4 linked regions of the Homo sapiens genome follow. The protein of the gene in region 1 interacts with the protein of each later gene in a biochemical or structural test. Each region holds a gene or a part of one and is shown on either strand. Other genes may lie near its edges. The genes, in order: SYNJ1, SNX9, PACSIN2 and CLTA.

Region 1 (7,030 bases):
TGAAGTAGGGGTTCCCATCTTAAGACTTCCCTCTTCTCTGTGAAGTGTTGAAGTGATCTGCAGGAGTGGGACAGCTCACAGTTTCAGGAGGGTTAAGGAGTTTTGCAGTAAAGCTCCTGAAGAGCAAAGGGTGAGGGGAAGAGCAAACCAGCAAATCATGGAATTGCCAGGCACTTTAGGCCAGAAGAGACTGAAAAGCATAATTTCAAATGTGACTGCAGTTGTCAGGACTGGGTGGTTTTCTTTAGCAGAGGCAGTCAGCAATCCAAGTGTTATCACAGAAAGATTAAACAGGGGAATCAGTGCAGGGATGGGGTTATGTCAAGCACGTGCAATGGAAGAAGAGTGAAGTAGGGTAATGTTTGAGATGAAGAACCATAGAATCTGAAGGTAGGTACAGAAGAAAGCAGAATCAGATGGAGGTAAAAGTTAGAGGGATCAAACCCTGGCTTCTGAAGAAATCAAAAGAGAAGGAGTAGCCAAGGGAGAGAACTGAAAAGCTGGGAGGCCAAAGTCAGAGTGAAGCTTTTGAGTTTATTATTTCAGAAGAGTGCAGTTCTGAGGGGTGAGGGTTAGGAGTGAAGGCGAATGTCCATAAGGATAGGACCAAGGCATTTTGCTATTGAACGAGTTGTCCACATGGACTTTGATGCCACGCAGAAAGATGGTGCGGGACCTGACTTACAGTCTTGCTCTCTGCTTAGTCCTCAGTGAGTGGGTTCAGGAAATGGAAGAATGGACGTTGGAGATGACTGTAGCAAGTGGGGGTAGAGGATGTTACATAAATTCCTGATGGCATAGCCTCAGAGCAGTAGGACTTTTTGTTCAGGGTTGGAAGACTAATGTTCTGGAATGGCAGTTAGGTTGCAAGGGTTACCTTGTGCCCACTTTCCTACCCAGAAGTAAGTGGAGATGAGGAGACCCTGGGGGAGAACCAGTGTTTACTTAATTAAAGCAAAGCGGGTCTTTGTGGGGTGAGGGTTGCAGGGAGGAGCCTTCTGGGGGAAGACTGTGTGGCTCCTGAGAGCTTGTTGACTCTGAGGCTGGACCTGGGTTAGGCAAGGGAGTGGGGCAGTTCCACAGAGCACAGTGGACAGGTTTGGAAGGAGAGCAGGAAACTTGAGTTGGCTTGCACTGGAGAAGCTGCTCTGGGGCATATTGAAAGCCCATTGGGTCACCCCAGCTCCAAGTGGTTGGTCACCTGACATCTTATTGCTCAGAGACAATAGATACCTTTACATCTTCTGAAACAAGCATTTCTACTAATTGTGGTTTTATACATGCCTTCATGCTTAATCCATGTGTGTTTGCAATGACATAATGTTCATATTTGTTTTGTGTATTTTAACTTTTTAAAACCTAAGGTGAAAAAAATCTCTGAGCAAGTTAAAATGGAGTTATCTCTGATCAAGCCTGCTTTTCCTTAGGTGATGTTGATGACTATAGTGCTGAAGTGGAGGAACTTCTTCCTCAGCATCTCCAGCCATCTTCAAGTTCCGGCCTTGGTACTTCCCCCAGCTCTTCACCCCGAACTAGTCCCTGCCAGTCACCTACAATATCAGAGGGTCCTGTACCTTCCCTTCCCATCAGACCAAGCCGAGCACCGTCAAGAACTCCTGGGCCTCCCAGTGCACAGAGTATGCATTTTATTTGAAAGTTTTGTATGGCTTCCTGTGGCCAATGTGCTTGATGTTGGAGAGTCATCGTTTAAGTTTCATACCTAGGTGATAAAGTGCACCCTGTTTTCTCCGGTACAGAATAGGAAAACTTGTAGATGATAAGCTCTCAATGGAAAGGAAACTTGCTATAACTGTCACTAGATGACAATTGTTCTTAATCTTTTTTCTATGTGGTTAGGTTTGTCTATGTCTTATAACTGATGATTTTCTATGGTATGAACCCGTTAACTATTTGAGCTTTTTCTTCTCTCTACTGGCCAGACTACAAAATGGCTTAACTCAAACAATACTTTGTGCATATCAATAGGGCCACTTAGTAAATTAGCTTTCAGCACCTGAGGCCTAGGTAAGAAGTCAGCACAGAGGTAGCATTATTGCTGCCATGGTACCAAAGGGCAGTTTAATAGTAGACTGCTTTTGTTATTCATACTGAAAATACATGCCCTTTCTTTACACCATTGTGCACATTTTATAGAACATTACACATATATATGAAGGACTGTTCCCTTCTGTCAACAGCTACTTAGAAGCTGATCTTCTTACCTCCTGTGCGCTTTTTAGGTTCTCCTATTGACGCGCAGCCAGCAACGCCGCTGCCGCAGAAAGACCCCGCCCAGCCCTTGGAGCCCAAGCGGCCGCCGCCGCCCCGCCCGGTCGCCCCTCCCACACGCCCGGCTCCCCCACAGAGACCTCCTCCGCCTTCAGGTGACAACCTTTTATTTCCATTTCTGCTAGATGTAAAATTCTTCACTCTATTTTAAAATGTTTTGCATGTTTTCCAATCTCTAGCTTCTGGATTTTACAGTTTTTTCTATCATTATTGCTATTTCTTAGCTTTTCTCTAAAGAACATGGTAGGCGCAACAGACAAGGTAGAGTGTTTGCAGAGTAGATTCCTCTAAGGTGTTTTCACAGCTGCCTTTAGCTGCCTTCTCACCAGCCAGCCAGAGAGGTTTATTTTGTTTTTGCTAATTTGATCTAGTTAGGCATGTAAACTGTTCTTAGGTAAAATTAGGTTTAATTTTTTTCAAAATCCTCATTTCTGGATGATTTATAAGCATAAAATAATTAAAATGTACTAATTTCTGTAAAAGTATAATAAAACTGGAGAGCATACGTATTAATGTACAATTGTATGTATTTGTTTAATGTTCTTTTAAATTAAATATAGTGCTGTTACTTCAATTATAAGCATATGCATTGAATAATAGTTTTTGTAGTACGTAGATAATATGTAATTCCTGCATGATACTTGATGTCATGGATACTATAGCAATCTTTGACATTTCACTTCTGTATTTAATGTCATTTCCTTTCTGCTGCCTATTTTCTTATGAACTATAAGGGGCTAGGAGTCCTGCACCCACTAGAAAGGAATTTGGAGGTAACCATTTACATTTGTTAGCATGTGTGAATCGTGGTTCATTAATGTTTTACACCTGAAAGACATTTTAGATTTGTTTGATAAAAGTCAAAATGAATGACATTCTAGTTTAAAACTAATCCACAAATAAAACTAATAAAGGCTTTCATTTCCCAGGTAGGCTGGGATTGTTCATCAGGCCTAATTTTTTTTTTAATAAATGTGGTCGATTCATTTACAAAGATTTAATACCCAAAAGTTATATTAATTTTAAAAGTCATTCAGGTACAGTAAATACAGAACATTTCCCAAGTATCTGATTAGTGATACATTTATTTTCTAGTGGAAAAGCTTTTGGATTAGCAAAGAACTGTATGATTTTCTTTTCCTTTCTTCATAAGGAAATTTTTATTCACAAAGGGTCACTTTTTGTTTGAAGTATAGTTTATTTGGTTTACATGAAAACTCACAGAGCTCAGTTGGAGTTATACATTTGACAAGTTTATTTAATCTAAATCTCAAGAAAAGATGAGATGAGTTTTCACAATTCCTCAGAAGAACTTTTACAAATCCAGTGTTACTAAGGCTCACTGTGCATGTGTAGCCTGGTCTGTTTCTATTGTAGCTTGCCTAGTGACATGGCTGAGCAATTCAGGTCTTACTACAGACTGACTTTGCCTGTGTGTAGATCTTAATGACTGCGTGTGATAAGAATAGCTAAATTATTTCAGCATTACAGCTTCTGCCGAATACAGCTAAGTGATCATTTCTCCATTGACCTACAGAAAACATTTAATTTTTCCCTTTTCAAGCTCCTGCTTTTATAGAAAACATTTAATTTTTCCCTTTTCAAGCTCCTGCTTTTATTTAAATTTCCATGATAATTTTTGCTTATCTTCTGCTTTAATTAGGAAAACATCCTGTAGAAAATAAATTTAAAATGAATCTGTCAAAAGTTAGGCAAGCCAGTGGATTACAGTGAAATCTGTCTTAATTTTAAAAATTGCTCCCCTTCATAATTCTTTTGTAAGTAGTGTTTGCAACATGTTTTTTCATCCTATAAACAATAATTCCTTTACGTCATTATAGTACATTAGAGTTTTTAAAATTAATGCATCAAAAACTAACTTCAAAAGACTTACGTAGTCTCATAGAAATTTATGATTTCTTTCCTTTTGACTATCAAATATCAGAGTTTTTACTTGCTCTGGATATAAGGAGTAAGATGATTTTTAAAGCAAAGGTCTTCATTAAACATATTTTTTAAATTCCCTACTGGTAGTAATTGCATACATAAAAAGAAAACTGTCATCCTGTTTCTACTCTTCTGTTTGAGTAAAGGGAGGATTCAGATTTGGGCCAAGCATCTAAAGTCACTTTGGTTTGTATTGATATCTTTGAAGAAATTTAAAGCAATAAAAGAGCCTTTTTGCAAAAGTGAGTTTACTATGGAAATTGTCTTGTGTGCCTGCCTTTCATTCTGTGCTGTGGGCCCTGAACAATATATAGTTTCTGTTCTTTCTCTAAAAAGGTATTGGAGCCCCTCCCAGTCCTGGGGTAGCTAGGAGAGAGATGGAAGGTAACAAGACTCTTGCATTATAGAAGTGGTTCTCTCATTTTATTTCTCAGTGTCAGCGCCCCACCTCCCCACCCCGCAGTGTTTGCAGGCATACTAAATCTTTTCTTGGTCCAGCTGTAAACTTCTCTTTCCCCTCCTTATGTATACCTTGTATTTTTTCCTCTCTTCATTCTATGTCACCTATAGTTTCTAATGGATATCCATTTAATTTCCCTGAGATCCTTAATGTTGTTTGTACTCTGTTTCATATATAGTTTATATATGCCCAGGTTGTGAAATTACTGTTTAAGAATGTCTTCAAAATTCTTTTCAGAATAAGTAAAATATTTAGAAATGTACTTTACTAATCTGAAGTTTTAAAAATTAATGATTATAATTAAACCCTATTAATTCAGATCCAAGAATATAGTATTTTGTAGTTGATTTCAGATAACATAGCTATTTTATAGATTAGCACTGAGCCAGATTTGTTTAAAAGACCTTTAAGACTAGAGGCCATTTGTTATGATTTTAGTTATTAAAAGGCTGATGTATTTCTTATAACAATTGTACTTGAATTTCTTTACAAAAAGGAGAGTTTATTTAAGATGCTGCCCTTGATAGTCACTCCTACTCCTTTTGGCTCCAAGAGTAATTTATTTCATTTTATCCTTCAGCTACCTTTCTAATGAGTTTGAACATATTTTTAACACTGTCTTCCATAAGGCAGATATTTGGTAATAACATATGCCTGTCTTCTGTCTTAATGATGGGATTTTGTTATAGAAATCCGAAAGATCTCATCATAAGATAACCTTATCCACAGTGACATCTACAGCGTGAAGCCCTAAAGTATTGCTACTAGGAGCCTCTTGTGTAATTTGACAAATGCAGTCCTGTCTGTTGCTCAGAAGCCACTTGTCTGCCAGACTCTAAGGGGCAGCAGTGCCGCATCTTGTGACCATTCACACAGCTGACTGTATGTTTTCAAGGTTCACGAGAGAGTTCTATGGGGAATGCCACCCTAAAAGTGGTCCCATGAGTGAGATATCAAACTAAAGTCACCACTTGTCTCCCATAAAGGTCTATCTAAATATTGTAATTTTTCTCTCTTTTGGAGTATTTCATTCAGGACTGATAATACCCTTCATCATTATACAAAGCAAAGTGCTTTGTTTTGTTACCATCTCATGCCCCCATTTCTGCTGGTAATGAAGCAGAACAGCAAGCTGATGTTATGCAATATTGCTTAATTGTTAACTTACAACTAATTTTTTTTTCCCTTCTTGCTTCAAAGCACCCAAAAGCCCTGGAACAACAAGGAAAGATAATATAGGTAAAAACACTTGAATGTAGCTATTCACCCTTAAAACTGGACCGTGAAATAGACACTTGGAATATAAGTACATGGTTTCTTGTTTATTTTTTTAAACTTAAATATATGATATGATGTCTTTGTTCCAGGACGCAGTCAGCCTTCACCTCAAGCAGGACTTGCAGGCCCAGGACCTGCTGGATACAGTACAGCCAGACCGGTAGGTAAAACCTCGCCTGGGGCCAAGGGGTCTCGGTTCTAAGTCCTGTTTACTACTAGTCAGTTTTGTTACCTTGGAGAAATCATGTGACCCTTCAAGGCCTCAATTTCCTCATCTCTAAAATGAGGGAATTGCACTTGATGATCTTCCGACTCTAACATTATTTTAACATACTCTTCAAAAATAACAAACTTCATTATTTGGATAAAAGTGATACACTTAAAACAATTATGGTCACTAAATAAATATCTTAAGAGTCTCAGTATATGAGGAAATGATGGATTTGGGCAGCTTTTTATCATTTTACCTGAGTAATTAATGAAGATATAAAGTAATCCTTCATTAAAAAGGATTTTAATTACATTTCAGAAAAAAAAATGATAAATTCAGTATAGTAAAACTGGTTCTAAAGGTTTTTTTCTCTTTTTGGTTTTTTTCTTGATCAGGTTCATCATATTCCGTAAAGGTATTAGAAATAGGAGAGTAGATGTTGTTACAGGATTTTTCCCTACCTGATGAATGTGTCTTTTCTGTATGTTTATATGTTCTCTTATACACATAGGTTTTTTATTATTTGAAAACTTTCTCTGGACTATAACAGGTAATCAAGAACAGAGAGAAAGAGCAAATAGAAACCAGTAATCAGTGACTTAGGCTAGTCCAGTAGGAGCTGGGACTACTGAGAGGCCCATATCTGAAGAGTAGGAAACTGAGAGCTATTACTGTACCTAGAAATTAAGATTATTAAGATTGTGAGAACTGAGGAAACCACTTCCTATGAAGATAGAAGCTTTTTGTCTTTTCTGTTGTAGCTGTCCACTTAACAATCTGAAGGTTCTTTTTTATATGTAATATTACTCTTCAAATATTTATCCTCCTTTTTTCAAAAAAAGGGA
Region 2 (7,030 bases), on another chromosome or scaffold:
CAGATTAACATTCTTTGATATCTGCCTTGAATCATGGAATTGGAATATTGGGAAAAAGTATTAGTAATTTCAAAAAATAAACTAAACATAACTGCTGGAAGGAGTACTTGAAAATTCTGATGGAAGTCATAAATTACTAATATATCTCCTTCAAGCTACACTGGCATAGACTACAGCCTTATTTAGGTCTCTCCAAAGAATCCTACAGTGGTCACTGGTGCCCACATGCTTTCCTGTTAAGTAGGGTATCTACAAGTACTGTTAAAAACTTTTTTTTTTTGGCTAGGTGTGGTGGCTCAAGCCTGTAATCCCAGCACTTTGGGAGGTAGAGGCGGGCGGATCACTTGAGACCAGGAGCTTGAGACCAGCCTGGCCAACGTGGTAAAACCTCGTCTCTACTAAAAATACAAAAATTAGCTGGGCGCGGTGGCACATGTTTGTAATCCCAGCTACTCAGGTGGCTGAGGCACGAGAATTGCTTGAACCCGGGACGTTGGGGTTGCAGTGAACCAAGATCGCACCACTGCACTTCAGCCTGGGTGACAGAGCGAGACGCCTGTCTCAAAACAAAAAAATAAAACACAACACTTTTTTTTTTGTTTTAAATCTAAGAGAAACCTAAGCTAACACAAAGCTCCGGACCACGTTTTTAGGCACAGGAGCTGAAACACGTGCTTTGGCGCCTGAGGGCCTGGCTTCCTGACTGGAACACTCGATGCGTCTCTCTGGGCATCAGTTTGCCTGCAGTAAAACAGGGGTTTTATGTACCACAAAGGGATATGAGGGCTACATGCGAATGATACAAACCTCTCTGCACAATGCCTGGCACATGGCAAGTGATTAACAAAACAGTAAAACATTTAAAAGAGAGTTGTTATTATTATTCTTTTTAGCTTTCCTGTGACATTAGCAATGAAACCTTAATATGTCATAAATTGATAAAGCTAGAAGTAATGAAAACAGTTTGGGAAATCATTAAATAAAATAAATATTTCACTTATTAACCTTGTAAATCAAAAATCCTTTTTTTTTTTTAAGTAAGCTTCTCAGTTAAGATCCAAATAAAAATAACTGAATCATATCCAAAACTTAGGAGATCACTGGAAAGGGAAAAGGCCAGCTGCCTCTTGGTAGGGTATATACTTTGTATTAATGTATACTTCTACCACGGCCCTGGTTCCCTGGCTCCCCTTTAAACTTACTTGTTAAGGGGAATTTTCATGGATGAGGAACTAGCACGACTGTTTCCTCGCTGAGCGCCGCCTGCATCAGCTGACTCTGAATCCTTAAAGTAGGAAGAGGATTTGGGCCCATCCCAGTCTTCATCCCAGTCATCATCATCACCAGTTGCTAGAGGTGAAAATGGAAGATCATCAGTTAAAAAAAAAAAAAAGACCAAAATAAAAATGAAATTACTTAATTTTCTGACAGTAACTACCTACTGGGCAAATCAATTTTTTTTTGATGGAGAAAAGGGTATAGTATAGGAGTATAATATGGATGTTAAGAGTAAAGGCTGTGTAGTCAATTTTAAGCCTTGAATTACAGATTCTTTTAGTGCAAAAGACAAATCAGAAGCAACTTAAAGAGGGCTATCAGATTACTTTTAAATTTTTGACACGGGCACCGAGATGACACAGTGGAGAAAGGGCAGTCTCTTTAGTAAGTCGTGCTGGGAAAACCAGGTATCTACATGCAAAAGAATAAAACTGGACCTTGTCTTACACCACACACAAAAATCAACTTAAAATAGATTACAGACCTAAATGGAAGACCTGAAACCACACAACTCCTAGAAGGAAACACAGGGGAAAAGCTCCTTGGCGCTGGCCTTGGCAAATGTTTTTTTGAGTATTACACCAAAAGCACAGGGAACAAAGTCAAAAATAACAGGCGGGACTACATGGAACTAAAAAGCTTCTGAACAGCAAAGGAAACAATCAAAATGAAAAGGTAGCCTATGGGCTGGTGTAGGGAGACCCCCTGAAACTATTGCTATGGAATAAAAGATGAAATGCTCCTGATTATTGTAAATACAAAATTGCATGCAGGATTGTGTAAAGACAGTGCCAGGTGGGACTGCCAGAATGAGCCAACAGCATGTGATGTGCTTCCCCCTGCAGAGAGCCTATGAATGGATGTGCAGTCAGGGAGGTTTCACATCACCAAGATTCCTATCCCAGAAAAGCAGATATTCATAGCTCTGGGAATGGAAAGTGACCCTTGTAAAGAGCCTATAAACAGACACATGGGGGCACCGTCCATATGGATAAGATAGGGCTATAAACGCCCTCATCTTGCCAGGGCTCTTCTGGGCCTCTTTAGGGTTAAGGCATACTCCCTTCTGAGAATTTCTGGTCTAACAGGTTGTCTAGCTTCACGTCCTGTTTCTACGGATTGTTTGTAACCAGCTTTTGCTGCAACTGTTACTGCTGATTAATATCTTGCTAATCATAGGTTATGGAAAGACTGTGTTTCTGTTTTAAGGCTCTGTCAGAAATTACTGATGCATACACTATATTGTAAATTCTTATCTCTGTATACTGTACTTCTGCATACAGATGTTATGTTAAAGAATTACTTCATCCCCATGTGACCATCTCACCTCATAATCAAATGACCCTAAATCCCTCACTAACCTACCCCCGCCCTCACTAAACTTAATAATAAATGCTGGTATATCCAGTGCATTGTTGGCACTGCAGGACCAGAAGGCAGTGACCCCCCCGGACCCAGCTTTCGCTATCTTGTGTGTGTCTATTATTTCTCAACGGGCCGATCCGCCTGGGAACACAAAGAGAACCCCGTTGCATTGCGGGCTGCTGGCCAGATCCCGCAATAGGCTGGGAGAAAATATTTGCGAGCCATGTATCTGATAACCTGTTAATATTCAAAACATATAATGAACTCGCACAATTCAATAGCAAATAAAAAAAGCTCAATTAAAAAATGGACAAAGGACCCAAATTGACATTTTTCCAAAGAAGACCAAAAAATGGCCAAGAGGTATATGAAAATGCACTCAACATCACACACAAAGAAAAATACCACATGGATCTTATTTACATGTGGAACTTTTAACAGGTCTTTAAAAAAATCTAAAAAACTTATAGAAGCAGAAAGTAGAAAGGTGGTTACCAGGGGCAGGGAGACGGGGAACTAGGGAGATGCAGGTCAAAGGTACAAAGTTGCAGTCATGTAGGATAAGTCTAGAGATCTCATGTACAGCATGAGGACTACAGTTAATGATATTGCATTATATTTGGGAAACCTGCTGAGGGAGATTTTAGGTGCTCTTACCACACACACACCCACAGGCACGCACTTGCACATATACACGCGCACACACACACACTTAGGTAATCATGTGAGGTGAGGGATATGTTAAGCGCTTGGCTGTAGTAATGATTTCAGTATATACATGTATATTACAACATCACGCTGTATACCTCAAATATAGATAATTTTTTTTTTGAGACGGAGCCTCGCTTTGTTGGCCAGGCTGGAGTGCAGTGGCGCAATCTTGGCTCCCTGCAAGCTCCGCCTCCTGGGTTCAGGCCATTCTCCTGCCTCAGCTTCCCGAGTAGCTGGGACTACAGGCGCCTGCCACCACACCCGGCTAATTTTTTTTCTATTTTTAGTAGAGATGGGGTTTCACCGTGTTAGCCAGGATGGCCTTGATCTCCTGACCTTGTGATCCGCCTGCCTCGGCCTCCCAAACTGCTGGGATTACAGGCGTGAAAATATAGATAATTTTTTTAAAGGGCTGTCAGTCCACATCACTTCAGATAAATGCAGACTGTAAGAATGTTAAGTGGTACACAGTAGAAAAGACTTCTAGAGGCCTAGACACTGATAAATCTAGTCTTATACATTTACAAATAAGCAGAATACCCTTTAATTCTAGAGGCTTGGGGAGGACGAAAGGGACGACAGAACTTTGAAAAGCAGCTGTTTAACACTAACAATAAAGGGGAGAGAAGGGCAACGAGGGGGACATTAAAAAGACCGAGTTGGGGTGTGGGAGAAAAAGATGAGAGTGAAGAAGTAATTAAGCAGCATCAGTAGCTACTATTCTGACAATAATCCCCGTGTCAGATAAGGTGCTGTGGGCTCTCCTCCTTCTCCTTCCTCCCCTGTGGGCTCTCCTCCTTCTCCTTCCTCCCCTGTGGGCTCTCCTCCTTCTCCTTCCTCCCCTACTCTAACGGCCTGAGTGTCCTTTAGTGTCAGGTCCTAAGAGTGCCATTATGGAGAAGCCGAGAGACAAATGCCAAATGGGAGAAGAACAAACTATGAGAAGGATGTGGGCCAAGTGACCAGAGAGCCAGACCCCAGGAGTCTCCCAACGCTTCTACCCAGCCCACACCCCTGGTCCTGCTGACAGGCAGCTCCTGTCTATGACTGCCAGCCTTCAGCCGGGACCTGCACCCTGCTTTGGGCTTACAAGTGAGGTCCTTGCTGTTTAGAACAGACATTCAATTCTTGGCCCAATGTGCTTACAGAGGAGACAGGGTTCAGGAATTGTTAAAAAATAATGGGAGACTACCTTCTTATTTAATTTCAGATCAGACATAAATACCCTTAATTCCCAAATTATTTCCCATTCCACACATTTCTCTTCTGCCTCAGTATTTCTATTCATAGCCTAGTCAAACAGGAAGTTAAAACAGTGAATGCAGAGGTCTTAAACCAGCAGGATGAGCCACATCCCATCCACATACACGTTTCTGGCTCAAGATTTTAAAACAAACGTGTTAGCTGCTGAGATGTTAAAATCAGAAGGTGACAAATAACCAAGACTTCTCATCTCTCTGAAGATGTGGAGATCAGAACGTGGGCTCAGCTTCCCTGCAAATGCAGTGATCCACGGGCGACAGCAGGGGCCCTCAGCCTTCTGCAGCCTCCACCGCCCATTCTGCTTTTACTTTACCAACCCAGCGTTTGAATCTGTGACTTCACACAGATAAGTAAGACTGAACTAAAGTTAGAGTTAATGACCATCTACAATTGAATCCAGGTTTGCTACTAGTGAATAAGGGCAACTGCAAGCAGTTCTTTTGAATAAAATCTATTTTCAACTCAATGACCCAGAGTGGTATTGTGAGGTAAGAAATAGCCATCTGGTCTGCGTCCCTAGTTCCCGGCACAGAGCTCCTAAAACTCTTGTAACTTCCTGAATGTTAGGTGTGCAAGGTGTATCTTTTGTTCTGATATTTGGTCTCTGACCCTGGCTCCTGACACAGATCTCCTAACCCTTGGAATTTCCCGGGTGGTAGGAGCATCTTTTGTTCAAATGAGGTGACTCCTGGTGGGATGGGGGCTGGTCAACAGAAGGACCAAGCCAGGATTAGAAGCTTGGAACTTCCAGCTCCACCTCCCATTCTCTGGAAAGAAAAGTGGGGCCAGAGGTTGAGTTAATAATCAATCATGCCGGCCAGGCATGGTGGCTCACACCTGTAATCCCAGCACTTTGGGAGGCTGAGGCAGGTGGATCACCTGAGGTCAGGAGTTTGAGACCAGCCTGGCCAACATGGTGAAACCTTGCCTCTAATAAAAATACAAAAAATCAGCCGGGTGTGGCGGTGGGCGGTGGGCTCCTGTAATTCCAGCTACTCAGGAGGCTGAGGTGAGAGAATCACTTGAACCTGGGAGGCGGAGGTTGCAGTGAGCCGAGATTGTGCCACTGCACTCCAGCCTGGGCAACGAGAGCAAAACTCTGTCTCAAAGAATAATAATAACAATAATCGATCATGCCTATGTGATGAAACCGCCGTAAAAATCCTTGAGCTACAGGAAAAGAGATTCTGGGGTGCTGAACATGTAGGGGCACCTGGGGCAGGGGGGCATGGAAGCTCTGCGTCCCTTCCCCATGCCTCGCCCTATGCATCTCTTCATCTGGCTCTTTATTTGCATCCTGTAAATTGAGCTTTGTAATAAACTGACAGTAGTAAGTAAAGTGTTTCCCTGAGTTCTGTGAGCCGCTCCAGCAGATTAATTGAACCCAAGGTGGGAGTGGTGGGAACCCCCTTGATCTGACTCCAGGTAGACAGTGTCATGACTGTAGGACACTCAGCTGGTGTCTGCTGCACAGCTGCTTGGTGGGTGGGGCAATCCTCCCTTCCCATGCTGTGGTCACAAAACTGTTCTGTGTTGTGCTGAGTGTGGGAACAGCAAAAACAGTTCGGTCTTCCCTGTCTCTCCCACTCAGCCATGGGCGGGCAGGGTGGGACCTTGCACCCCTCTCCTCACCTGGTCCTTGGTAGGCCTGGGGGTGGCCGAAGGCAGTGTCCCAGTTGTTGGGAGTGTTTGTGTTTCTTTGGGCTCCAGCCCCCTCTGGCTGGGCCCCCCAGCCTTCTGAGCTTTCCCAGTTCCCAGATTTGGAGGCACTCCAGGCTGACCAGGGGTCATTGCCACTGCCAACCTATTGAGAGGGGTAAAAAGAAGGAGAATTTTTGTGACTTTTGGAAACCATGACTCAATTCAATAATGAACTGACACAATTGAATACAACAGGAGTACTAAAAACAATTAATAGAAATGTATTCAAAACAATTTTACATACATAATATTTTAATTTCCAAACATGTAGGAAAGCACAAAAGGTAGCATCAATCTAATTTTACTGATGTGAACACATTTTACCGTATTTGCTTAGGAACTTTGAAAACAGCAACAAAGAAACTATTAGATGCAGCTACAGCCCTCTCTTTCTTTCTCTCCAGAAGTAACCACTACTTTTCTGAACCTGTATCCATTCCTATGTGTGTTTTCATACTTCAGCTGCACATGTACACATTCACAAACAACTGCTTTATATTTTTAAAATTGACCTAAAGGATGTCATACTGTATGTATCTCTTTGCAAGTTTTCTTTTTCCCACTCAACATGAGGACCTATTTCTAACTGCTTTATAGCGATCTGTTGTATTTTTAAGTAGGCTTTTTAATTTGAAATGGAATACATGTATAATAAAAAAAATTCAAACAATAAAAGTATATGCAATTTGAGAAATACGCCTAACATCCTGAG
Region 3 (7,752 bases), on another chromosome or scaffold:
TCTCAAAATAAATAAATACATACATACATACATACATACATACATACATACATACATACATACAAACATACAAAAACTAGCCAGGCAAGGTGGCAGGCGCCTGTAATCCCAACTACTGAGGAGGCTGAGGCAGAGGAATCATTTGAACCTGGGCAGAGACTCTCTCTCAAAAAAAAAAAAAAAAAAAAAGCAAGGACAAATGCCCCTCTGCTCCCACTCCAGAAATGCCTGGCCATCAGAGATGTGGATGGGTATCCAGGATTAGGGAAAAGTTCATGTTATCTCCCTGCAGAATGCTATGTTGGTGGAAATCCAGAATTTTTTTTAAATATATGCATACTTTTAGATTTATTTATTTTTAAACAGAGTCTCACTCTGTCACCCAGGCTAGAGTGCAGTGGTGTGATCTCAGTGCACTGCAACTTCCATCTCCCAGGTTCAAGCAATTATCATGCCACAGCCTCCCAAGTAGCTGAGGCTGAGATTACACGTGTGCACCACTACGCCAGACTAATTTTTTTTTTTTTTTGAAACAGGAGTTTTGCTCTTGTTGCCTAGGCTGGAGTGCAACGGCCGGATCTTGGCTCACCGCAACCTCCGCCTCCTGGGTTCAAGCAATTCTCCTTCCTCAGCCTCCCAAGTAGCTGGGATTACAGGTATGAGCACCACCACACCCAGCTAATTTTGTATTTTTAGTAGACATGGGGTTTCTCCATGTTGGTCAAGCTGGTCTCGAACTCCCGACCTCTGGTGATCCGCCCGCCTCTGCCTCCCAAAGTGCTGGAGATTACAGGCGTGAGCCACCACGCCCGGCCTTAATTTTTGTATCTTTAGTAGAGACGGGGTTTCACCATGTTAGCCAGGCTGGTCTCTAAGTTCTGACCTCAGGTGATCTGCCCGCCTCGGCCTTCCCAAGTGCTGGGATCCCAGGCGTGAGCCACCCCGCCCAGCCTAGATTATTTAAATATCACATCACAACTTCATATACATTTGAGATTAAAAGTGATAAAGTTCCAAGTCCCAAAGCAGCACGAGCTAAGGATACCATTTCCATTCAAATGAGTTGTTATTCTTCTCCCAAAAAGTGGATAAAGAGTGCAGACCTAATCACCCATCTACTTCTCTGTGTTATGTTACTTTCCCAAGTAATAAATATCACCAGCCTAATGGCCACTTTCTTTAAAGCTTTAAGTCTATTGTCAAAAGAAAAACACACCAATGTTTTTGATGTAGTGGCCTCATATCTCAACCAGCATAACCTCACCAAAGAGGCTACCAAACTCTAGAATTAAGTTTAAGTCCACACAAGTGAAAGTTTTCCAGGTGAATCAAGAGAGATCCAAGTTGCACTGGCACAGCTTCAATGTCTCCATGAGGAGGCTGCATGCAGGCAGGCTCATGAATCAAGTGGAACGACAACATCTTGGGCAAGAACAGGAGGGCTGGCATTCAACACTGCCTGCCTGGTCGGTTCCCTTGCCCTGGGCTCCAACCTGGCAATCCCAGGAGGGTTAAAACAGAACTTCAGCACACGGGAATAACCGCAGAGGAAGGCACCGAAAAGGAGGGAAGGAAGAAGGTGTGAGCTCACCATCTGCAGCTGAGGTTCAAACTCTTTGAGCTGGTTTCCTGATTTTCATCAAGACAGCCAGGCAGTATTTGGTAAACAGTGTACCAAGTAGCCCTGGAGACTCTGAGCAGCCTACCCCCTTAACCACAAAAACACCGGACAGGCGGAGGGAAAAAGAGAAGACAGGATCCAGGAATGGTGCACACACCCAGCCAAAGGCCACCTTCCCTCAGGCACCCAAGCCAAGAGTGGCATCCCCAGGTCCTGTTATACGTCAAAGGCTGCAGCCGTGTGGGCCCCAAAGCAATAGCACAGCTTGCTCCCCTGACCAACCAACTCCTTCTGAAAAGAAAATCGACCTTCTCTGATGGAGCCGAAACCCAATGAATCAATGAAATTCAACAGCAGCAGCAATCACTACCTCTCCAATTGCGGACCTCTCAGGATGCCTGGCCAGGCTTGAAAGCCCTAGAGGAGTAAGGAGTTCGGATTTCTGATTCAGTGAGTCTGGGGAAACTCTGAGGAGGGTCACAAGGGCAAACCTCCCCGGCCTCTCCTGCTTGGCCCCAGCCCTAGGACGTGCTGCGGTAAGGGCTTTGCTCCCCCCGCCCTACACACACACACACACACACACACACACACAGACACACACACACCACCCCCCCCCCCCCGGGACACGGAGGGTGGGAAGGAAGGAAATGGAGGCCGCTCATCAAAGCGCCCGAAATCAGCGCACCCGCGTGTGTCCTGCGTCGCCCCCCAGGCCACCCCAGGACTAAGCCCTGCCCTCTCACCGGCGCGTCCCAGCCACGCCTTCCCTCCAGCGTTGCTCCGGCACCCTCGCCTAACCTCTGCACGTCTCGGATTCCCAGCTTTCTCCTAAATCGCGTCCCTCCAAAAGTCGCCCCAGCTCCCCCTTCTGCAGCTGTCTACACCTCCCCCACTCATTAGCAGCTCTTAACCCCCGACGGCCCTGCTCCTGCACTTCCCTCTCCAGCAGGCCCCGGACCCCGGAAAACTGCCCCGCTCCCACAGCGCCGCCCCCATGGGCCCCCGCCCCTTCCCCGAGCCGACCCCACTCGCCCTCGTCCTCCCCAAGATGTCTTCTCCAGGCGCCCCCCGGGGCCCCGAGCACTCGCCCCCTCCCACAGAGACAGGAAGTTCCGCGCGGCCCGACCCGCTTCCCTCAGGGCGCGGAGCTCGGCGCGGCGGCCCTGACGGGGCGCGGGCCCGGCCGCGGACCAGCGCCCCCGCGTCCCGCCCGCGGCGCCCCAACCGTCGCGGCGACCCCTGACCTCGGCGGCCACTCACCTCCCAATCCGTCGCACACTCCGTTCAGGCTGCCACGGCGTCTCCAGACCCAGCTCCGGCCGGGCTCCCGCTACCGCTTTTGCTCCGGCAGCACTGCCCAGCCCTGCCCAGACCCCTGCGGCCGCTTCTGCCGCCAGCCGCGACCGCACCGCCCCCGCCGCTCCCGCTGGGCTCTGTCCATTGGCTACCGGACACCGAGCCCCGCCCCACAGCCTCCCCGGCGCCCCCGATTGGGCCAGATGAGTAGAGAGGCGGCTCACCCCGCGTGAGGACGAGGGAAAGCCCCAGGACGCGCATTGGTGACTTCTCCTGTCAATCAAACGGGGAGTGCCTATTTAATGGGCTGCGAGGGTGGCGCAGATTACTCTCCCAAAGCCGCTCGCTGGTGGTGGTCCTTGAGACGCGCTTCCCGGGGCTGGAGTTTTGCGGTTTCGTCGGCATCCAGGGGTAAGAGGGCGCGGCAGGGCAGCACCGCACCTGACCGGAAGTTCAGGGAAGGTAATCCTACAGTCTTTCAGAAAGTTTCCTCTCCCAAGGGACTCAAAGAAGCTAATGTCGTTAGGAGCTCCTCCGACTTGCGCCAAAAGCGTCATTCCACGTGGACCCGCTTAGTTTAAACGGGGGGTTGGGGGGGCGTATGTTGCTGCTCTCTCTAATAAAATATATTTGGATGGCAAGGCACCAGGCAATGCACACGCATTCTTTCCAATTCTCACAATCACCTTGCATGATAGGGTATTAGCCCCGTTCTGCAGAGGGAAATACTCTTGAAGGAAAATGGAGAGCACTTCCTGAGCACTGTCCTACGCGCTGTCCAAGCACTGCTTCATGTCATCCAGGTGGAGAGGATGGTGAGAGGAACCCCAGGTGAGGGGTGAGCCAGGTAACTTGCTGGGGGTGATGTGGAGTAAAGAGAGTAAATGGCAGAGCCAGGATTAGAAACCCAGGTCAGCCCAACCCTTGAGAATAATAATGATGACTGTGTAGCACTATGGGAAAATGCTTAAACTAAAACGTTAAAAGAAAAAGCCAGATAGAGCCAGGCATGGTGACATGCACCTGGAATCCCAGCTTCTTGGGACGCCGAGGCAGGAGAATCGCTTCAGCCCAGGAGTTTGAGGCCAACCTGGGCCACATAGCAAGACCCAGTTCTCTAAAAAGTAAAATAAAAGAAAATAATAATAAAAGAAAAAGCTAGATACAAAATGGTAGAAACTGTAGAATTGCTGCTACATATAGATAGGTATGAGAAAAGAGTCCACAAAGAAATCTAGTGGTTGTTTACTTTCTAGACTGCTCTGTGGCATTGTCCTTATGACAATAATTGAGAAAGAAACAAAAGAACCGGCTAGGCACGGTGGCTCACGCCTGGAATCCCAGTACTCTGGGAGGCCGAGGCGGGCAGATCACAAGGTCAGGAGTTTGAGACCAGCCTGGCCAACACAGTGAAAGCCTGTCTCTGCTAAAAATACAAAAAATTAGCTGGGTGTGGTGGCATGCACCTGTAATCCCAGCTACTTGGGAGTCTGAGGCAGGAGAATCACTTGAACCTGGGAGGCGGAGGTTGCAGTGAGCCAAGATCACGCCACTGTACTCCAGCCCTGGCGACAGTGCGAGACTCCATCTCAAAAAAAAAAAAAAAAAACCAACACACAGTGCCAGGACAAACCACTGCCAAGAAGTCTCTCCTCATTCTCCAGGACTGAGCCAACAGGGACCTCTTTGCCACCCACAATACCTGTGGACCATTTGTATAGATAGAACTCAGCCATCAGCTCTCAGCACTTTCATATCTGGGTAAGTTCCGCTTACATCGCAATTCCATGCCCTATAAAAATATAGAGCCTTGTCGGGCGCTGTGGCTCACGCCTGTAATCCTAGCACTTTGGGAGGCCGAGACGGGCGGATCACGAGGTCAGGAGATCAAGACCATCCTGGCTAACATGGTGAAACCCTGTCTCTACTAAAAATACAAAAAATTAGCCAGGCGTGGTGGCGGTCGCCTGTGGTCCCAGCTACTCGGGAGGCTGAGGCAGGAGAATGGCGTGAACCCGGGAGGCGGAGCTTGCAGTGAGCTGATATCGCGCCACTGCACTCCAGCCCGGGCAACAGAGTGAGACTCCGCCTCAAAAAAAAAAAGAAATACAGAGCCTCTCCCAAATTTTTGGGGGTTTTTGTTTTGGTTTGTTTGAGACAGGGTCTCACTCTGATGCCCAGGCTGGAATGCAGTGGCACAATGATGGCTCACTGCAGCCTTGACCTCCTAGGCTCAAGCCATCCTCCTGCCTCAGCCTCCCAAGTAGCTGCGACCACTGGTGCGCACCACCATGCCCAGTTAATTATTTTTTAAAATCTTTGTAGAGACAGAATCTCGCCATGTTGCCCAGGCTCGTCTTGAACTCCTGGGCTCAAGCAATCCTCCTGCCTCATCCTCCCAAAGTGCTGGGATTACACGCACGAGCCACTGTACGCAGCCTCTCCCAAGGTTTCTGAACAAGCGTCTGTCATCAGGCCTCCTGCTCTTCCACACACCGCATGCTCACTGGTCTCACCATCATCCCCTTATCCAGTTGCACGAATCCCCCTGCACTCCAAGCACTGCTGAGTCTAGCAGGGGTTCCTGAAGACTGGAAGCTGGAGAGAGGCATCAAGCCTGGCACTGCCCAGCAACAAGACAGGATGCCTCGTGAGCCTTTTTGGCTGCCTGGCCCCAGGAGTCACCACCTGGTCACGTGACCCATGCCACACTCTGGCCACTTCACATGCCTTTGGTTTTCTGCACTCTCCCCCTCTTCTTTTCTCTCCTCCTCCTTCTCAGGACAAACACAAAATTCCTTTCCTTGTCTTGCACCTAGCAGCTTGACATCATTGCCTGAACTCTTTGGGCCTTATACCTTCTGTCCTGGCAGCTTATCAGGGTATTTTTCCAAAGATAGCTCCCCGTTGCCACATGTGAGCACCCCAACTTTGTTCCCCACAAACATTTCACAACATTCCATCCAGCCTCCTCCTTCAGTCATATTTGAACAGGCCTGGAGCCCAATCCTGCCTCCACCCCTTTTCAGCCAAGGGGCCTTGGGCCAGTCACTGCAGCTCTCTGCACCTCTGTGTCCCCTCCGTGATATGGGGATTAGGAAGAGCAACAGGGCTGTGGTAAGGAGTCAAAGCATGGAGAGCTGTTCCGGGCACACGGCTGTGAATGCTGTGTCTGAACGGTGGACATGTGGTCATGCCTTGTCAGCTGCTCCTTCCTTCCCCCAAAATGTGACCATTGCCACAGAGTGCCTGGGACTGAGACTGACCGGCTTTAGTTTAGTCCTTTATTAACCATTTCCCACTAAGCAGCCTGGATAAACAGACAGTCTGGGCTAAAACATACTTGCACAGAGAATATCATATTCTCAAAAAATTTAAAACATCCAGATATAGTTGTATTGCTGAAAATACAGTGATACGTGTATTTTCAGTGTGATAAGTACAGTGATTTATGGATTGTACAGTGATACATGTCTTTCAAGAAAAAAAATCAAAATCAGTTACAGACATTCACTCACTCAATAATTCCAATATTTAGAACGTGCCAGGCAGGGAAGGTGGCTCGGGGTGGACCTGGGTCCTGCTGATGTTCCTGGAAAGATCTGGCAAGGACATAGAGTTTAGAACAGAAGAGGGTGCAGTGGTATTGAAAACAGTGCTGTTTACCTGAGCCAAAATGAGTGGAAGATTACAGAGAGCAAAGATCAGGAGGCAAGAACTCCTCCTGTCCAGGAAGAGAGGAGGGTTCCACTTGGCTGCATTGCAGGCACAAAGAGAAGCCAGGGGAAACAAGGCAGTAAGGCAGCCGAGCGGCAAGGAGCTCTGCGGCCCTGGCAAGTGACTTCACTACTCCAGCCCTTGGTTTTCCCTACTGTAAAACGGGGATAATCACAAAACCTAGTGATTGTTAGCTTAGAGAATCTGTGAGGATTTGTGAGTTCGCTCTGCAATATTCAGCATGGGGCCTGGCACAGGTCATTGTTCAGTGTGTTCAAGGACCCCTGATTTTGTAAAAGTGCTTCAGGGTATATTCACTTTTTTAAATTTTTAATCGTGTCTAAAAGAAAAGCCTGGGCGTGGTGGCTCACGCCTAAAATCCCAGTACTTTGGGAGGCCAAGGCGGGAGCATCACTTGAGTCCAAGAGTTGGAGACCAGTCTGGGCAACATCATGAGATCCTGGTCTCAAAAAAAAAAAAAAAAAAAAAAAAAATTAGACAGACGTGGTGGTGCAGGCCTGTAGTCCCAGGTACTCAGGAGGCTGAGGTGGGAGGATCACTTGAGCCCAGGAGATTGAGGCTGCAGTGAACCAAGATTGCACCACTGCACTCCAGCCTGGGCAACAGAGCAGGACCCTGTCTCAAAAATAAATAAATAAATAAATAAATAAATAAATAAATAAATAAATGGAAAACAAACCTAAGAACACGTGCTGTGCACCAACTGTTAATATTTTGGCCATATCAAAGCACTAACTATGGCGGCTGGAGGAACACATTTCTGAACATACCTCTGAATGACATGCTCACCTGCCAAGTACGTGTAAAGATCTGAATTCTTTGTAAATGTGTCATTGATTAGGAGGCAATTACCCCAATCTCCCTGGCTTTGTTTTGTTTTGTTCCATTCTGGCTGCACATGTCTGCTCACGTCAAATTGTACCAGCAAGTACAATGTTCCACTCCTGCCATGCCCGGCTGGAGCCTGCTCCCAGACAAAGGTAGGTATGGAGCAGCATACAAACAGGGCTTCCCAAGTGGGCACTGGGCACTGCCCAGGTGCCCTGAATTGGGATCAATCCATTCTTTTTTTTTTTTTTTTTTTTTTGAGACGGAGT
Region 4 (4,669 bases), on another chromosome or scaffold:
AGAAATATGAACCAAGTGCTTGGGATGGCACAGAACCCAACATGTGCTACAGGACTCAACAGTAATGGGGCTAGCCACACATGAATGCCGTCCTGACTCAGGCTTACTGGCCGGATCCAAAGGAGTCAAGGTCTTACTAGAGTCTACGTGCCCCACAGACTCCTGCCGAAATATACTATCCAAGACCCTAAACTGAGGGACACTGGCAAGCAAGAGCCCATCTGGGAGAAAACGACTAGGTTGGTGAGAGGATTCACAGCTGTGTCTTAGGTAGATAATGAGGGGGTTAACCTTCAGCCACTAAACTCCCTTCTCAAATGAAAATGTCCACAGGATCCCACTCTAGATCCCGGTGCTATCTTAGTTCAAGGCAGGGCTGTGTGCCCAGTGGCTGTGCCTCCTCAGCCCTAGAAATTTCAAGGAAATTCCTCCTGGAAATTCCTTCCAACCTCACTCCAAACTACAACACATCTTGAGGTCAATAAAGAAGCTTCACATAATACAGTTTGAAACAGAAATTTATTCTCAGAATAATGCACAGAAGCACAGGTTGAGGCTACTCTTGGGAAGCTTCCCTCCCCTTCCTCTTCCTCCTCTCCCTCCTCTCTGAATGCCAGGGAGAACACAGTTGAAGGAAGGAAACATGCAATCACAAACAATGAACAACTCTAAAGACAAAAAGGTTTGGTCCAAAAGAACTCAACATAATTAATCCAATGACTGTGAAGAGCTTCACTGAGTAGGATTAAGATATTGCAGATGTAGTGTTTCCACAGGGTGGCTCTTCAGTGCACCAGCGGGGCCTGCTTGAGGGAGATGAGGACTGAGCGCATGCGGGAGACATCTTTGGCCTGCTTGCTAGACTTGGGGTTAAAGTCACACAGCCGGGCCACCCGTTCCCACTCAGTGCCTGGGGACGACTCGTCAATGTCATTTACAAAGGCTTCTTCTGCTGCCCTGGAAGCAACAACAAAATATGTTGGTTTATGCAGAACCCCCTTTGAGCAACCTGGTGGCTGCCTTGCTACACAAGCAACTGCCTATTTGTCCCTTTCTTAATGACATTCTGGCTTTCCCAAGATAACAGCCCCTGGCCCAGGTCAGACTCAGGTAGACACGTAGCTGGCTCTCCTAGGCACAGGGTGCCCAGACCGCTGTGTAAAATGTTGGAATACAGGTGTTTGGTTCAAGGCTCACTATGTCTCTCTGTCTGTCTCTGCTCCTGTGGAGCATTAATAAAACAAGTCCTTAGCCAGCTACACACTGCTTTTATTAATAAGAACAAAGCAGCAGGCTGATCAAGAACTTGAGTAGTTTATGCTGGGCTGTACTGAATTTCAAGGAAATTTAGAGACTTCTAAAAAGCCCACAGATCATTGCACAATAGCCTCTAGATTTATTCCTAAGGCTGGAGAGAAACGGGGCAGATCAAAAGGAATTCAAGACAAAGCTCCCATGCTAGCAAGCACTAGAGACTAAAGCCATTCTGGAAGGGGGTTTGTTAGGACATTCTCCAGTTCAGCCAAAAGTTTGCCATTTTCCCTCCAGCCAGGTGCCTTGGGGCCACTCAGGGCACACTGGCAGGAGAGCCAACGTGAGTTGCTTTTTGGCAGGATGCTGCTCCAACATTCTTTCACATCAAGGTCAGCCCACCCCCAGTTCGGAATTAACTGGTGGGAGCTACAGCCGGAAAGGACAGCGCTAAGACACACTATATTCATCTACTCCAACAAGCATCACGGGCAAAGCAAAAGCAATGGAGATGACTGGTCTGTGGGGACGGAGGGGTGGCACTATCACAGGGATGGCCGTGGCAAACACCGCTGAAGCCCAGAGCCACTACAACACTGCGACTTCATGGCACACACAGTTAGGGGCAGTGAGAAAGGTTTACTTAACTGTTCTAGGCTGTAGCAAGGATGGTTTATGTTTGTGCTTAAAGGTGAAGAGAAGAAAAGAAACGAGAGAAACTTTAAGTCAGATATAGAAAATGAGAATGAGCTCAATGCAGATGGTCAGTAAGCTGGACATGCCCTTGCCACTCTATCTGTGCTTGGGGACGTGCAGCTGGCTTTGCTGGCCACCCAGCTGCCCAGCAAAACCAGACTCGACCTTTCCAGTCTCCATTTCTACTCCAGAGAGAATGTGCAGAAATCAAATCAAACACCACCTGTAAGTCCAGCATTTCACAAGTCTCACTGCAAATGCATCTGGGGGCCCAGGAAACCCAGTTCTATCTTCTAAGGGGATGAACATCTCAAGGTCATAGGCCCTGAGAGGCTCTACAGACCTGAGCTCATCGCCCACCTTCCACAGGTTCCTCTCCTCTTCCATTCCACCCTTACTTCTCATGTAAAGCCAGCCCTAATTTTTAAGGAGGAGACAATGAGAACTGTTTCCAACTCTTCAGCAATACTGCTTTGATAAAAGAAATCCTTAAAAAAAAGAAAAAAGAAAAAAAGAAAAAAAAAAGAATAAGAAAAACACCTTCTCCAGAGAAGATGCAGGTTTCTTTTGGGGGGGTCAGGGGGAGAAGCCCAAGTGGCCCGTATCAAGACACTTTGACTATCCTGATCTCAAAGCTGGGGGCTTCCCTGTGCTAGGAGACAGGACATCAGAAGCTGACCACTAAATAGCAATTTCTGACATGCAAGACCACAGAGGAACAATTATAGACACCCACTGGAGACAACCCCCTCTGCTCTGGACTCTTCTGCCTGAGGGAGAGGCAAACGACCCCACATTGTTTGAATGAACCAAGTATGGAAAATGCTGCCCCACAGCTCTGATTTTGGCAATGCAAGGTGCTGCTGCTCACTGGCTCCTAACCTCCTGGGACTGCCACCTGCTCCCAGGTGGGGAAACCTCCTTCCCACCTGAGGCAGGCAGGCAACAGGGCATGGCAGCAGTGATGGCAGCCAAGAGCAAGAGAGCAGAGTTCCCCCGAGCCTCAAACCGTTCCCAGATAAGATCGCAAATGACACATTTTGAAAGCGAGTTAGCTTTCTTCCCTCCAAAACCCCAAATATGAAAAATGGCCATCAGAGGATGCAGGGAGTCACAAATCTGGAAGATTCATCAACAGATCATACCCCGCTTATCAATTCTTAGGCAGCCCCCAAAGTGCCAATTTGAAATAATTTAAAAAGCAAAGCAACTTGTGACATAAAAGGAGCATTAACTCTAAACAAAAGTAGAAAGAATCAGATGTAGAAAAAGGAATTAGTTTTGCAACATACACATAACCAATCACGTCAGCGAAGGGTTGTTTGTAGAAAGCTTCATCTGCCACCCTAGACAGCAAGAGGTCCAAAAGGCAGGCAAGCAGGCAGGAAAAAAGAGAGAACATTGAGAAGCAGAAACATCTAAAATCCACAATTGAGGTACAACTGTGCTCTGAGGAGCTGCTCCCAAGGCTCCTTCCTAACCCCCGTGAGGCTTCCAGCGCTGGAGACTTCAGCAGGCCTGGTTTCCCGCTGGCCTTCCCACGTGGGGACTGCTCCACGACAGAGCAAGCACTGCCAACTTCATCCCTTTGGCTCACCCCAGCAACACGGGCATTTATTAAGCACCCAATCATGGACTAAGCCCTTTCACATACATTATGTTGATTCAATCCTTAACTGTTAACAACCTATGACCCTGACTGTTCTCACCCCCACTGTACAGATGAGGTAACTGAGGCTTAGAGATGAACAACTTGCTCAGCTACACCACAGTGGCAGCATTCAGGACTCACAACCAAGGCAGCCTGGCCCTAAGTCCAGGGCTCTTTCTACTGTATAGTCATGCTTCTTCCCTGCTGTATGTGCCCAGAAAGCCACGCCACCTTCCTGTTTCAGTTAATGCACTGGGCAGGAATGCTGCCAGACACCAGATGCGCTAGGACCCAAAGCCAGTTTTATCTTGGATTATCTAACTACTGCTTCCCCACACTGTCTGGGTGGGATACACTTCCAGAATCCTGGGAACACATATCGTCATTTTAAAATCTCAACCTTACAGGAAAAAACGGCTGGAGGTGAGTGGTCTGGTGGGAAGAACACTGGACTAGGATCCTGGCCCTGGCTTCTGTTGTTCCTGAATATGGCTCTCTCTCTACTCAAGAAGCGGGTACAGTTTCTGAATATTTTTACACCAGACTCAATTGGCTTTGATAAGGTGCAGCCCAGAATCCAGAACTTCATCCCTTCTTAACTCTCAACATGGCAGGGCTCTCAGACAGGAAGGAGGGGGCAGACTGGGTGGATAAATTTTGACAGCAGGGGCCAGGCTGGCTTTGACTCTGTTGTCCTGGACTGACTCCCTGGGCTCTGCCAGCCCACTCTTCTCCACTGTGGCTGGACATGGAACCTCCCTCATGGAGTCTTACCCTGTCCTTTGTCAAGTCGATTTGGGGTGGGCAAGGGGAAAGACATTTTTCAAGGATAATCATGCCTGGTCATTAAGCTAACCTCACATACTTATTTGAAGGCAAATTCTAGTAATTTTAAGTTAATTTTTAAGCTCACACATGCCCTTCCTTCTTTCCCATTTTGTTTTATACACAGGAGGTGTTTTGTGGAAATTTAAAGAAAGCAAAAAGAGCAGGCTGATTATAACTTAAAGTGACTCAGCAGGAAAACAGAGTTGTTTGTGGGCAGAATGAGTGGGAGGAAAAGGCAAGGCA

The links.
Region 2: the proteins of SYNJ1 (region 1) and SNX9 interact in a test that uses a peptide from one of them, tested with the Homo sapiens proteins (one study listed by IntAct).
Region 3: the proteins of SYNJ1 (region 1) and PACSIN2 form a complex in vitro, tested with the Homo sapiens proteins (one study listed by BioGRID).
Region 4: the proteins of SYNJ1 (region 1) and CLTA form a complex in vitro, tested with the Homo sapiens proteins (one study listed by BioGRID).

Annotation. Positions count from the first base shown.
Region 1 is NC_000021.9:32,641,000-32,648,029, reverse strand, and holds part of SYNJ1 (synaptojanin-1), read left to right. Parts: intron 1-1,427; coding exon 1,428-1,637; intron 1,638-2,240; coding exon 2,241-2,384; intron 2,385-3,023; coding exon 3,024-3,062; intron 3,063-4,572; coding exon 4,573-4,620; intron 4,621-5,896; coding exon 5,897-5,935; intron 5,936-6,063; coding exon 6,064-6,134; intron 6,135-7,030. UniProt on the Homo sapiens protein: Phosphatase that acts on various phosphoinositides, including phosphatidylinositol 4-phosphate, phosphatidylinositol (4,5)-bisphosphate and phosphatidylinositol (3,4,5)-trisphosphate. Has a role in clathrin-mediated endocytosis.
Region 2 is NC_000006.12:157,896,218-157,903,247, reverse strand, and holds part of SNX9 (sorting nexin-9), read right to left. Parts: intron 6,422-7,030; coding exon 6,250-6,421; intron 1,351-6,249; coding exon 1,203-1,350; intron 1-1,202. UniProt on the Homo sapiens protein: Involved in endocytosis and intracellular vesicle trafficking, both during interphase and at the end of mitosis. Required for efficient progress through mitosis and cytokinesis. Required for normal formation of the cleavage furrow at the end of mitosis.
Region 3 is NC_000022.11:43,012,140-43,019,891, forward strand, and holds the start of PACSIN2 (protein kinase C and casein kinase substrate in neurons protein 2), read right to left. Parts: upstream 3,011-7,752; 5' UTR 2,882-3,010; intron 1-2,881.
Region 4 is NC_000009.12:36,207,891-36,212,559, reverse strand, and holds the end of CLTA (clathrin light chain A), read right to left. Parts: exon of another isoform or gene 4,006-4,669; intron 3,294-4,005; coding exon of another isoform or gene 3,240-3,293; intron 1,936-3,239; coding exon of another isoform or gene 1,900-1,935; intron 958-1,899; coding exon 786-957; 3' UTR 501-785; downstream 1-500. UniProt on the Homo sapiens protein: Clathrin is the major protein of the polyhedral coat of coated pits and vesicles.